Linked DNA regions of Homo sapiens: regions 1 and 2 are each linked to region 3. Evidence: fine-mapped expression QTL. A gene starts in region 3. Each other region holds a variant in brackets. All regions are shown on one strand. Distances are from middle to middle.

What was found. PIP is the estimated chance that this variant, and not a neighbour inherited with it, causes the effect. A credible set is the group of variants that fine-mapping cannot tell apart.
Region 1: its variant is the best candidate, but not a certain one, in a credible set for the expression of OXSR1 in whole blood (INTERVAL, PIP 0.77).
Region 2: its variant is the best candidate, but not a certain one, in a credible set for the expression of OXSR1 in whole blood (INTERVAL, PIP 0.89).

The regions. Positions count from the first base shown.
Region 1 is chr3:38,303,000-38,307,192 of GRCh38, forward strand. SLC22A14 (solute carrier family 22 member 14) reads left to right here. Exons shown (of 11, transcript NM_001320033.2): 2 at 3,028-3,543. The coding sequence starts at 3,028. It also overlaps the pseudogene RNU6-235P. Among named protein-coding and RNA genes, the nearest start is that of SLC22A14, 23 kb to the left of the region's middle. The variant T/C (reference allele first, on the strand shown) is at 2,289.
Region 2 is chr3:38,053,849-38,058,041 of GRCh38, forward strand. All of the region lies in intron 2 of DLEC1 (DLEC1 cilia and flagella associated protein), which reads left to right. Among named protein-coding and RNA genes, the nearest start is that of DLEC1, 17 kb to the left of the region's middle. RefSeq lists enhancers at 1,513-1,592, 1,623-1,672. The variant G/T (reference allele first, on the strand shown) is at 1,751.
Region 3 is chr3:38,163,794-38,167,986 of GRCh38, forward strand. It overlaps OXSR1 (oxidative stress responsive kinase 1), which reads left to right and starts at 1,744. Exons shown (of 18, transcript NM_005109.3): 1 at 1,744-2,153. The coding sequence starts at 2,084. LOC101928234 (a long non-coding RNA gene) reads right to left here and starts at 1,683. Exons shown (of 5, transcript XR_940733.2): 1 at 1,604-1,683. RefSeq lists enhancers at 419-1,618, 779-858, 1,009-1,138, 1,409-1,508, 1,902-2,517 and silencers at 1,749-2,138, 2,189-2,238.

The DNA.
Region 1 (4,193 bases), 140 kb after region 3:
AAGTTTTTAAATTCATTGGCATAAAGTTGATGTTAGTATCCAGTTAATATTTTCAGTCTTGCTATATCTGTATATTCCTTTTTGCATATATAAAAGACTTATTTGTATCTTCTTTTTTATTTTATTTTTTACATAATTTCACTAAAGATTTGTCTATCTTATTAATCTATTCAAGGAACTAATTTTGAACTTTGTTGATTCCCTTTCTTATACTTTTGTTTCTAGTTCCTTAATTTTTGTCTTAACTTTACTACGTTCTTCCTTTACTTTCTTTAGATTTATTCTTTTGTGTTTTTTCCCACTTCTTATGATGGTTGTTTAGTTGATTAATTTTCAGTCTTTCTGATTTTCTGTTATAAAGCACTTAAAGCTATAAACTTGCCACAAGTACCACTTTTTATACCACCCATATGTTTTGATATGTTATGGTTCTTACTGTCACTTATTTGTAAATATTTTTAAACTCCCACCATGATTTCTTCTTTAACTTGTATTCACAAGTTTTTTTTTTAACTTAAAAACATATGGAGTTATCTCTATCTCTATCATCTCTATCTCTATCTTCATTCTATCCTCGTGGGTTAGAAGACTCAATATTGTTGTTAAGATATAAATTCTTCTCCACTATAGATTCAATACAATCTCAATGATTGTATTTATTTAATACAATCAATATTTGAATTTGCTTACATTTTTCCCATTTTTACCACTCATTATTACATCTCCAGCTGTCCTCCAGAGATCATTTTCCTTCTTATCTTTCATTTATTTATTTAAATATGGAACACTTTACAAATTTGTGTGTCATCCTTGTGCAGAGGTCATGCTAATCTTCTCTATATCGTTCCAATTTTAGTATATGTGCTACCGAAGCCAGCACCCTTCTTATCTTTTAAAAGTTCAATCAGGCCGGGCGCGGTGGCTCACGCCTGTAATCCTAGCACTTTGGGAGGCTGAGGTGGGCGGATCATGAGGTCAGGAGATCAAGACCATCCTGGCCAACACGGTGAAACCCCATCTCTACTAAAAAAAATACAAAAAATTAGCCGGGCGTGGTGGCGGGCACCTGTAGTCCCACCTACTTGGGAGGCTGAGGCAGGAGAATGGCGTGAACCTGGGAGGCAGAGCTTGCAGTGAGCCGAGATCACACTACTGCACTCCAGCCTGGATGACAGAGCGAGACTCTGTCTCAAAAAAAAAAAAAAAGTTCAATCAAATCAGGTCTCTTACTGTGTGTTCTCTCAATTTCTTGTTATCTCTATAATTACCTTTATTTTACCCTAGTTCTTGACAGACAATTTTGCTGGGTATACAATTCTATGTGGTCTATAATTTTCCATCCACATTTTGAAAATATTCTTCGCTCTCCTGGTTTCCGTGTTGCTTAACTTTCATCTTCTTTTTTTGAGACAGGGTCTTGCTCTGTTACCCAGGCTGGAGTGCGGTGGCGTGATCATGGCTCACTGCAGCCTCGACCTCCCTGGCTCAGGTGATCCTCCCACCTCAGCCTCCCGAGTAGCTGAGACTACAGGCACATGCCACCAAGCCTGGCTAAATTTTTTTGAATTTTCTTGTAAAGACAGGGTTTCACTATGTTGCCTAGGCTGGTCTTGAACCCCTGGGCTCAAGTGATCTACCTGCCTGCACCTGCTTCTAACAGGAGACTGCTGAGGCTCTTCATTAGTCAGTGGCCTGCCTTCTCTCCAGCTGATTTTCAAGATCTTTTCTTTGTCATTGGTGTCCTGCAGCTTCATTGCAATGTGTCTAGCCATGGTTTTCTTTTTTATTTATCGTGCCTAAGTTACATTTCCTGGATCTAAGAATTTGTTTTAAAAGTTTTAGAAAACGTATTGTTTTTATTTCGTCTCCATTTCTCCTTGTGGGCTTCCAATTTGATACATGTTAAATCTTCTATCTACCAAGTCTCTTTACCTCTCTCTCACATTTCAGCAATTTATTCCAGTTCACTGATTCTTTGTGTCAAATTTGTTTAACTTTCCTCTTAGTGTTTTTATCTCAACAACAACAACTTGCCGTTCAACAAGCTTTCATTTTTAAAAGTTCATAATCTTCCTTCCAAAAGTGTCTGCTTTTTCCTGATTGTTGTTTTAAGTTCATTTTCGTAATTACAACCTTTAAATCCTTAAAAAGTTCATACAATAGCTGTTCTAAATTTTGTATCTGACAGTTTCAACATCTGCAGTCTAAAAGTCTGTGGTTTCTGGATTCTGTCGACTTGTAGAGTGGCTTGCCTTCTCAAGCTATAATCTCTTTGCTTGATGTACCTC[T/C]GTGAGAGTCTTGCAGAATCAACTTGAAGAAATTTTCCTTTAGAGAAGGCTCGCTTCTGCCTCTGCTCTGAGCCAAGGGGTGCCCCGCACCAGGAACTGTTACCCCTTCTGAGAGTTTTGGCTCAAAACAGAGTTTTAAGCTTAGTTTCCCCTCCTTGCTGCTGTTGCAAGGTAATATGCTGACAGTCAGTACTGCTCACCTTCCTCCTTCCCCACTCCTGCCTTTCCAGTTTGGCTCCATGCTGCACTGCCTCACCACTGCACCAGCCTTGGTGCCCCATCTCTGTGGCCCAGGCTTCCAGCCTCCCACCTTGGGCCCACCTCCTGGCTACAGCCGACGATGCAGATCTTTGTTTGTTTTTGAAGAAAAGGTCCCTAGAGACCTCTCCTACCTTTTGCAAGACCACTGGTGTCTCAGTGTGTGTGTAAACAAAAAGCTTGAGTTGTGGGGAAGTTGTAGGAGAGTTCCTAAGAACTTAGTCCTTCATGACAACAGAAGCACAGCATTTTCTAAAACATTAAAAATCTCAATTACACTAAAACTCCAGGATGGTTGGGCCAGGGGGGAATAAATCATGTTAACTAAGAAAGCAAGGGAGGGAACTACTGAGAACGTCAAGGTTGGAATCCATATTGCTTCAAGCCAGAGGCCAGTTCCTAGTCGGTGGCTCCCATGCTGGTCTCTGATGTTTAGGAAGTGGTGTCAGCAGAGACTGAGCTGCACCCTTTCTTTGGACAGATGGCAGGAGAGGAGAACTTCAAGGAAGAGCTCAGATCCCAGGATGCTTCCAGGAACTTGAACCAGCATGAGGTAGCAGGACATCCACATTCCTGGTCTCTGGAGATGCTGTTACGCAGATTGAGGGCTGTCCACACCAAGCAGGATGACAAGTTTGCCAACCTCCTGGATGCGGTGGGGGAGTTTGGCACATTCCAGCAGAGGCTAGTAGCCCTCACCTTTATCCCCAGCATCATGTCGGCCTTCTTCATGTTTGCTGACCACTTCGTGTTCACAGCCCAGAAGCCCTATTGCAATACCAGCTGGATCCTGGCAGTGGGCCCCCACCTGTCCAAAGCTGAGCAGCTGAATCTGACCATACCCCAAGCACCCAATGGCAGTTTCCTGACATGCTTCATGTACCTTCCTGTGCCTTGGAATCTGGATTCTATCATCCAGTTTGGCCTCAATGACACAGACACATGCCAAGATGGGTGGATCTATCCTGACGCTAAGAAGCGATCGCTGATCAATGAGGTATGTCTTGTCATGGGTTGTCTGTAACTACCCTACAGGCTCAGAGTTGTGCCTCCCACCCTCACTGAATGGGTGGGGAAACCGAAGCTCAGAGATGGGAAGCCATTGGCCTGAGGTCAACCTGCAGAGGCAGGGTCTGGGCAGAAAATTAGATTCCTGTTGCCCAGCCCTGGCCCTGCCTATCTATAGAGTACATTTGGGGTAGAGATGGGTGCTGCATGGCAGGGTTTTCCATCTGTCCAAGAAATCGCTCCTGTAGTTGTGGTTCTGACCTCAGAACTCACAAAAAATAGGGCTCGGGGAAAGAAGCAGCTTTGATCAGGCATCTCTTACGGGGCTTCCCAACCCGAGCTGCAATCTAGGCCCTTTACAACACAGACCGCCCTAGCATGAATCTGCAGGTTGGGCCTAGCACCTGCCTTTGGGAAAGGGTCTGCACTGATTCCTGCCTTTGCTCAGCTACCCCCTACCCCACACACACATCTTGGCCTATGCCTCTGGTCACTCTCTCCAGGCCCAGCTCTCAGGGTGGAGCAGGTGCCAGAGGGGTTGCAGAGGTAACAGAGCAGAGGCAACAGCTGAGGCACGCTGCACACTGTTAACTGCCCCTACCCCAGGTCCCCTTGGCCTATAGGTCCCACGCTGGGATG
Region 2 (4,193 bases), 110 kb before region 3:
AGAAAAATTCTTCTGCCTTGGGATGGTGTTAATCTATAACCTTACCCCCAACCCCGTGCTCTCTGAAACATGTGCTGTTTCCACTCAGGGTTAAATGGATTAAGGGCGGTGCAAGATGTGCTTTGTTAAACAGATGCTTGAAGGCAGCATGCTCCTTAAGAGTCATCACCACTCCCTAATCTCAAGTACCCAGGGACACAAACACTGCGGAAGGCCGCAGGGTCCTCTGCCTAGGAAAACCAGAGACCCTTGTTCACTTGTTTATCTGCTGACCTTCCCTCCACTATTGTCCTATGACCCTGCCAAATCCCCCTCTCCGAGAAACACCCAAGAATGATCAATAAATACTAAAAAAAAAAACAAAACAAAAAAACAAACAAACAAACAAAAACAAAAACAAGGGTTTGAAGTTTGTGTTGGTGGCAGCTGCGTGATCTGGAAAAGCTCACACTGAGGAGCTCTCCTGCCTCCATGAGGGCAGCGTGCAGGCGCCTGGAGGCACTGACGTTTTTCTGGGTCTGACTTCTACTCTGTTTACAGACTAATCTGCTAGCCTACAGTGTTTCACAGATGTTGACTGAAGACATGAGGTTCCTGGGTCCTTGGAGCACAGCAAGCAGCATGAGCCTCTTGCTGGCACAGGTTTCCCAGGGGGTGACACAAGGGGCCCAGGCAGATGCTATGCAAGCAGTGGGGCTGATGTCATGGCCGATGCATGCTGAGGTTGGAGAACTCACTGCTTTTTCAGTGGACAGTCAACAAACCTGCACTTTGACTAGAAGAAACATGACCTCATTCCTCTAGACCACTTGCTGTAAGCACAGCCCTGAGAAGTGGCCCAGGTTAAAAGAATGGTGTTCTTTGCAAACTTAGTGAGAACATGCATGGTGGGTGGCTGCTCCCAGCACACCCAGGTCTCTCTGGATTTCCCCAGATTAAAACCAGCTAAACATGAGCTCACAGGTAAAATTACCAAGCACATATGGGAAAAGCCACCACGAGTAAGTCAGCAGAACCACAGCGGAACTGAACCTCAGAGAACCCAGCCTTTGACATCCTAAATTAAACTAAGAATGCTTGAGATATTTACAGACTAAAGGAAGGAAACAGCCTGAACCAGGAGCCACAAGACCACTAAAATGACCTGGCAGACTGGAGAGGAATCAAAGAGAACGTCTGGAAATGACAAGTACAATAGATGAAACTGTGGGTTTAACAACAGGCCCATTTTGGCTAGAGATTTTGAATTAGTAGATGGAAAGGAAAATCAGAAGAAATGCAGACTAGAGAGCCAAAGAGATAGAAAACATGAAACATAAGAAGTGTGGAGGTCAGGATGAGGCACAGCACACATTTAAACAGAGAAGTGTGGGGACATGAGGCTTAAAGTGACAGTGGCCAGGAATTTTCTGTAAGTTATGAAAGCCTGAATACACAGAAGCAGGAAGCACAGAAATCCACATCCATATCATCATGAAACTGCAGGACACCAAGTGCAAAGAGAAGATCTTAAATGCAGCCAAGGAAAAAGCACAAATTACAGAGAGCAGATGCTGAGACTGAGAGTAGACTTTATAGCAGCCACAGTGGGAGCCGGAAGCCATGTGATACAGTGAGTGTGACTTGGGACTCTTCACCATCAGCTTAGAATCAGGCATTGAAATAGATGGTTGTTCAAGAATCTGCTTATGGTAAAGGCATTTCCAGATGGGAAACAGAATTTATCACAACAGGAAACTCAGGAGAGTGA[G/T]ACTCAAGGAACTCACTGAAGAACGTACTTCCAGCAGAAGGAGAGTGGTCCTGGAGAAAGGGTGTGATTCTGAGATAGGCAGATGAACAGAGCAGTCAGTGAAGACGTGAGCAACGGAAAGCAACGTGGACTCTAAAGCTCTGTTAACTGGGTGACCCTGGTTATCTGGGTTGCGGGGAGAAAAATTAGAGCCCTCACCAACACCACACAGCAAATAAGCTCTGAATGTTTTAAAGCCTAGAAGACGCTATGGGAGAGCATCTTCATGGCTCTGGAGATGAAAGGCCTTCTTTAACAAGGTCCTAAATGCCCAGTGAAGGAAAACATTAAGAAATTCAGGCTGATCGTGCTGGCTCAAGCCTGTAATCCCAGCACTTCGGGAGACCGAGTTGGGTGGATCACTTGAGCCCAGGAGTTTGAGACCAGCCTGGGCAAAATGGTGAAATCTGATCTCTACAAAAAATACACACACACACACACACACACACACACACACACACACACACACACACACACACAAATAGCTGAGTGTGGTGGCATGCGCCTCCCAGCTACTTGGGAGGCTGAGATGGGAGGATCACCTGAGCTAGGGAGGTGGAGGTTGCAATAAGCTGAGATCGTGCCATCACACTCCAGCCTGGGTGATAGAATGAGACCCTGTCTCAAAAAAAAACAATACTGTAGTTAAATTTAGTGGTTTTTGGTTTTTTGGTTTTGTTTTTGTTTTTTGAGACAGAGTCTTGCTGTGTTGCCCAGGCTGGAGTGTAGTGGCTCAATCTAGATCCACTGCAACCTCTCTCTCCTGGGTTCAAGTGATTCTCCTGCCTCAGCCTCCTGAGTAGCTGGGATTACAGGCATGTGCCACGAGGCCTGGCTGATTTTTGTATTTTTAATAGAGATGGGGTTTTACCATGTTGGCCAGGCTGGTCTTGAACTCTTGACCTCAAGTGATCTGCCCACCTCGGCCTCCCAAAGTGCTGGGATTACAGGCGTGAGCCACCATGCCCGGCCAACTACATTAAATTTTAAACTTCTTTATTTTGAAATAAAAAGTAAAAACAGGCTGCTCTGCCTATGGAGTAGCCATTCTTTTATTCCTTTACTTTGTTAATAAACTAGCTTTCATCTTAAAAAAAAAGTGAAAACAAAATCCACAAAAGCAAATATAACGAACAGATTCAGTATCCAAAATATGTAAAGAATTAGGAGTCAACAAGAAGGTGGCAAACAGCTCACTTAGGAAAGAGCAAAAACCATGACTGGGAATTTGCAGAAATGGAAAAATAAATAAAAATGCTCATTCTTAGTGATCAGCAAATTAGAGCCAGAGGGATGTCCTTTCACACCCATCAGAATGATGATGATGATGTCAGGGAAAGGAATGAAGGCCAGTGGGCGAGACCACTGCCTTTTTGTGGGCCTCCTTGGTGGCAGCAAGTCCAGTTGGGAGCTTCTTGTATGTACAGACAAGAAAATGTATTCAGAAGCTTGAAATAGCAAACACCTGGAGACAGCTCAGGGGTGCATCATTAGGGGAATGGATAGGTAGGTTGTTGTCTATCATATGCTAAAAAGCAGTAAGAATCAATTATTTGAACTACATGGATCACAGCTGGGCACAGTGGCTCACGCCTGTAATCCCAGTACTTTGGGAGGCCAAGGCGGGCAGATCACCTGAGGTCAGGAGTTTGAGACCAGCCTGGCCAACATGGTGAAACCCCGTCTCTACTAAAAATACAAAACATTAGCTGGGCGTGGTGGCACGAGCCTGTAGTCCCAGCTACTCAGGCAGCTGAGGTAGGAGAAGCGCTTGAACCCAGGAAGCAGAAGTTGCAGTGAGCTGAGATCATGCCACTGCACTCCAGCCTGGATGACAGAGCGAGACTGTGTCTCAAAAAAAAAAAGAACTACATGGATCACATAGGTGGATCTCACAAAGATAAAGATAATCCGCAAAGAAAGAAAATTCAGGCGGAACACATACAGTGTGATGACATTTGACATGTTATATTTAAGGCATGCAGAAGTTTTATTTGTTTTTAAGAATCTGTAACTATTCAAAAATATAAACGTGCATGGGGATGATACATACGTACTCTAGTGAGTGATTTCCCCAGCTGGGGACAGGATTGGAGATGATCTTTCTAGAGTGGGACATGGTGGAGGTTAACTGTCTTAGCAATGACTTATGGGTACTTGGATACTCACTGTATTATTCCTTTTTTTTTTTTTTTTTGAGACAGAGTCTCGCTCTGTTGCCCAGGCTGGAGTGCAGTGGCGCAATCTCGGCTCACTGCAAACTCCACCTCCTGGGTTCACGCCATTCTCCTGCCTCAGCCTCCTGAGTAGCTGGGACTATAGGCGCCCGCCACCACACCTGGCTAATTTTTGTATTTTCAGTAGAGACGGGGTTTCACCGTGGTCTCGATCTCCTGACCTCGTG
Region 3 (4,193 bases):
GGAAGAAGAAACTTAGAGAAAAAACAAACCACCAGTCAGAGTTCAGTCCTTAGCTCCCCATTCTCTGAGGTCTATGTGCCAGCAGATCCATTTGGTGGGGGTCTGGGTTTCTAAAAAACAACTCAGGGACATGTGTTGATGTTATCTTTAGTTTTTATAGGGAACCAAACATCCAGTTATTTTAGTTTCTTTGGCTAATGTTTAAAGTTATTACTGCCCTCTTGCTTATCAAGGGGTTCATTAACTTTTCAAGGCTAGCTAAGTGCCGGGAATTTCTCTTGAAGTAACTCAAGATTTTCCTTTATTTCCATGGTTGAGGGCCTGCAGGCCCTAAAAGGGGTCCCTGCTCCGTCTCAGCTGGGCCTAGGTGAAGGTCTCTTCCTTTTTCTGAGACGGTGTCTCCGTCTGTTGCCCAGACTGGAGTGCAGTGGCATGCTCTCGGGTCACTGCAACCTTCGCCTCCTGCTTCAGCCTCCCTAGTAGCTGGGATTACAGGCGCCAGCCACCACGCCCAGCGATTTTTCTGTATTTTAGTAGAGAGGGAGTTTCACCATGTTGGTCAGGATGGTCTCGAACTCCTGACCTCAGGTGGTCCGCCCGCCTCCGCCTCCCAAAGTGTTGGGATTACAGGCGTGAGCCACCGCACCCGGCCTAAGGTCTCTTCCTTAAAGACTGCCGTTGGACTGAAAGGTGTCCAACCTAGAACAGTTTCGCACCTAGCCCTATCCCTGTTGGATGCTCATTATTTTTTAAAATCCAATTTACCAAGCGTGTTCAGTCTTCAGCTCGCTAATTTCTCTAACGGCCGTACGTAGTCAAACTGAGAAAACTGTTCAGTGGGGGCGACAAAAGCCAACGCCCGTGAGACAACCCCCAAATCCGTGGGTCGATCTCACTTGTTTAATACCCCAAGCCCTGTCCGGGGGGAAGAAAGACAACCTCCCGAGTCCCTCAAGGCAGGTGCTTATTTGAGCTTCAGATCTAAAGCTGCGAATGGACAGAACCCGCCCAGTGCAGGGTGGACCCGCGAGAGACAGCGCCGCGACAAGCGTTAGAGAGAACGTCCGCCTTGAAAAAAATGTCACCAGGCAAACTTCCAGTTTCACTCCGACCAGTGGCCCAAGGCCTTTTATCCTAGTTGGCAGTGGTCCACACCCAAAGGCTACCCCACCCAGCCGCTCCCTCAGGGTTTCTCCACACCCTGTAGAGCCTTTCGCACGTCTCGAGGGTGTGACGGTTACGCCGTGACGTCACTCCAGAGGAAGTGGTAAGACGAGCGCGGTAACGGAGCTCTTGAAGGGCTGCAGCCCTAACACGGAGAAGCGCGCTAAGAGCCTGGAGGCGGGACCAATTTATGACTGACGTCTACCCACACCCATTGCTTTTCTGATTCCTTCTCAAACAAACCAATGAATGCGACGACGGAGACAGCAGCGTGCCCCAGGCGCTAGAAGTGGCTCTGCCCCTTCTACTTTGCTGCCCTTTGGTCGCCATGCTTAGTGTGGCTACTGCCTCTGTGCTACTTGAGGCTCTCCTACGGCTTTTCGATGCCTTCGATGAACCTCTACCTAAGCACTTCTTCCCTTTCACCGCGAACTCCTACCTTCTCGGGTTTCTAGCTTGCTCACTTTACATCCAGCCACACTGGAGATGGCGGCCGGAGGCGGGCCCGAGGTGGGGCGTGACCAGCGCAGTGACGTCAGCGCGCTGCGTGTCGGCAGGTGGAGGAAGAGGGGAAAGTTTGGCCCGTGCGTGGGGCTGGGGTGGAGGGCGGGACAGAGGGGCTGGGCCCAGGCAAAGCTTCTGTCGCTGCTGCTGCGGAGGCCGAGGACAGGACGTGGGCTGGGCCGGGCAGTGCCGGACTCGGAGGAGCAGGAGGCGAGGTCCGCCGGAGCTCTGAGCCCCCGCTGCTCTGCCGCGCGGTGACCCCGCGCCCCGGCGCCGTCCGACCCGTGGCTGTTCCGAGACGATTGGTGGGGGCGCGGCGGCGGCGGCGGCGGCTGTTGGGGGTGGGGAGACGCGCGGCGAGGAGACGAGCGAGGTCAGCGAGTTTGAGGGAGGACCGCGAGCCGCTGCCGCCGTCATGTCCGAGGACTCGAGCGCCCTGCCCTGGTCCATCAACAGGGACGATTACGAGCTGCAGGAGGTGATCGGTGAGAGCAGGCGCTGCGGAGGGGGGAGGCGCGGCGCTGGGAGGCGGGGGACACGGGAACGTGGGGAGCCGCGGGAGCTCGGGGAGCGCAGCCCTCATAGGAATTCGTGGGGCGCTTGTGGGGCTGGGGGCTTGTAGGACGCTTGTGTCGAGGAGCGCGTGTGAGACGGGAAGGGGGTTTTGAGGCGCGCGCCTGTGAGGTGGCGTGGGGTGGGGTGAGGCTTGAGGGGGCTCAGGAGAGATTTGTGTACAGGATTCTCAAATGTGTGGACAGGAGCGGCCCATGTGTCTTGTAGAGAAAGAAAGTGCAGGTGTGGGACAGGCCTTTCCGAGGCTGTGTGAGAAATGGGATCTTGAAGTGGGCACAGCCATCGATTTCTGGGATTGTGGGATAGATAGGGAGCTTTAAGTTTTTCCTCCATCCGTGCTGGGGCGAACTGGGGATCCTCCAGGTGAAGCTGCAGGAACCGCGCTGAGCAACCGAGACCCAACTTACGACTCCTTCCAACTGACTTTCCAGTCGGGGAGGTAGACATTAAATAAGAAGACAAAAAGAAGTAAGAAGGGCTGGGCGTGGTGGCTCACGCCTGTAATCCCACCACTTTGGGAGGCCGAGGCGGGCGGATCACGAGGTCGGGGGTTCGAGACCAGCCTGGCCAATATGGTGAAACCCCGTCTCTACTAAAAATACAAAAATTAGTTGGGTGTGGTGGTGCGCGCCTGTAATCCCAGCTACTCGGGAGGCTGAGGCAGAAGAATCCTTGAACCCGGGAGGCGGAGCTTGCAGTGAGCTGAGATCGCGCCACTGCACTCCAGCCTGGGCGACAAACCCTGACTCTGACTCAAAAAAAAAAAAAAAAAAAAAAAAATTTGAAGAGGCTTTGGCAAGTGCCATGAAGGAGATAAACAAGATGTTCTGATAGAGAATAACCTGGAGATCTACTTAGGGTGATTTCAAGGAAAATTCTTTTTCTGAGGCGATAACATTTCAGTTGAGCCCTGAAGCATGAGAAGTGAGGATTAAGAGCCTCGGGAAGATTTTTCCTTACAGAGGGATATAGAGATGCAGTGGCCTTGAGTAAGGGAAGAGCTTGATTTGTTTTAGGACCTGAAGGAAGGCTGGCAAGGATAGAGAGGGAAGGGAGGAGCCAGATCTTAGGGATCTTCTCAGCTTTGGTACAGATTTTGGAATTTTAAGTATCACTGGAGGCCCTCAAATAGTGCCTTGACGTGATCCGATAAATTGGGCTGGTGTGTGAAAAGATTTGAAGGGGGTCCAGGAATACCAGTTGGCAGAGACCAAAACTTGCACATAGATTGTAATTCTCACAGAAGCCTAGGGATTGGGAGGAGGCTGGGGACTGGGGATGAGGGGAGTATTTGTTGGACAACAATAACCCAGTGACCTTGGAAATCAAAATGTTTAGCTATACAGGCTCAATCCAACGGACATGAGCAGACACCTGTGTATTGGAGGAAGGCGAATTATCTGCTTTGCCAGCATCCTGCCCTAAAATTAGTTTTATAACAAAGACCAACTGAAGACTTCCTAGCTGCCTTGGGGGTGTCAGTGTTTATTTCACTGTGGGTTTAAAAAGAACTTCGTGAAATAATTTTTGTTTTTACTTGCCTCTTGTTTTAAGACAATCTGGGCTTAAAGCAATATTGGTTCGTATAGGAAAAACAAAAACAAAACAAAACAACTCGGACTAAATAAAGACATCACATCTTTGCTTAAGCCACTTCATGGGCCTGTGTCCTTGCTACATATTGGGTCTTTGACATGTATTCGTTGGTTCTAAAGACAGCTAGTTCCCGGTCTGGACTGATTGCTTCTGGTTCCCCCAGTCAGAGTTTCATATTGAAGGAAAGGATTAAATGGAAGATTCCAAAATGATGTCAGAGAAGTAAAGAGGAGGTTCCCTATCATCATTTTAAAAGAAGAGTTTTTTTTTTTTTTTTCTGGTAGTGTATCCATCTTTCTAGGGTGAAGAGGATGGTTGTAGTCATTCTCAAAGCCTTTGCTGTTAAGGTGGCAGAG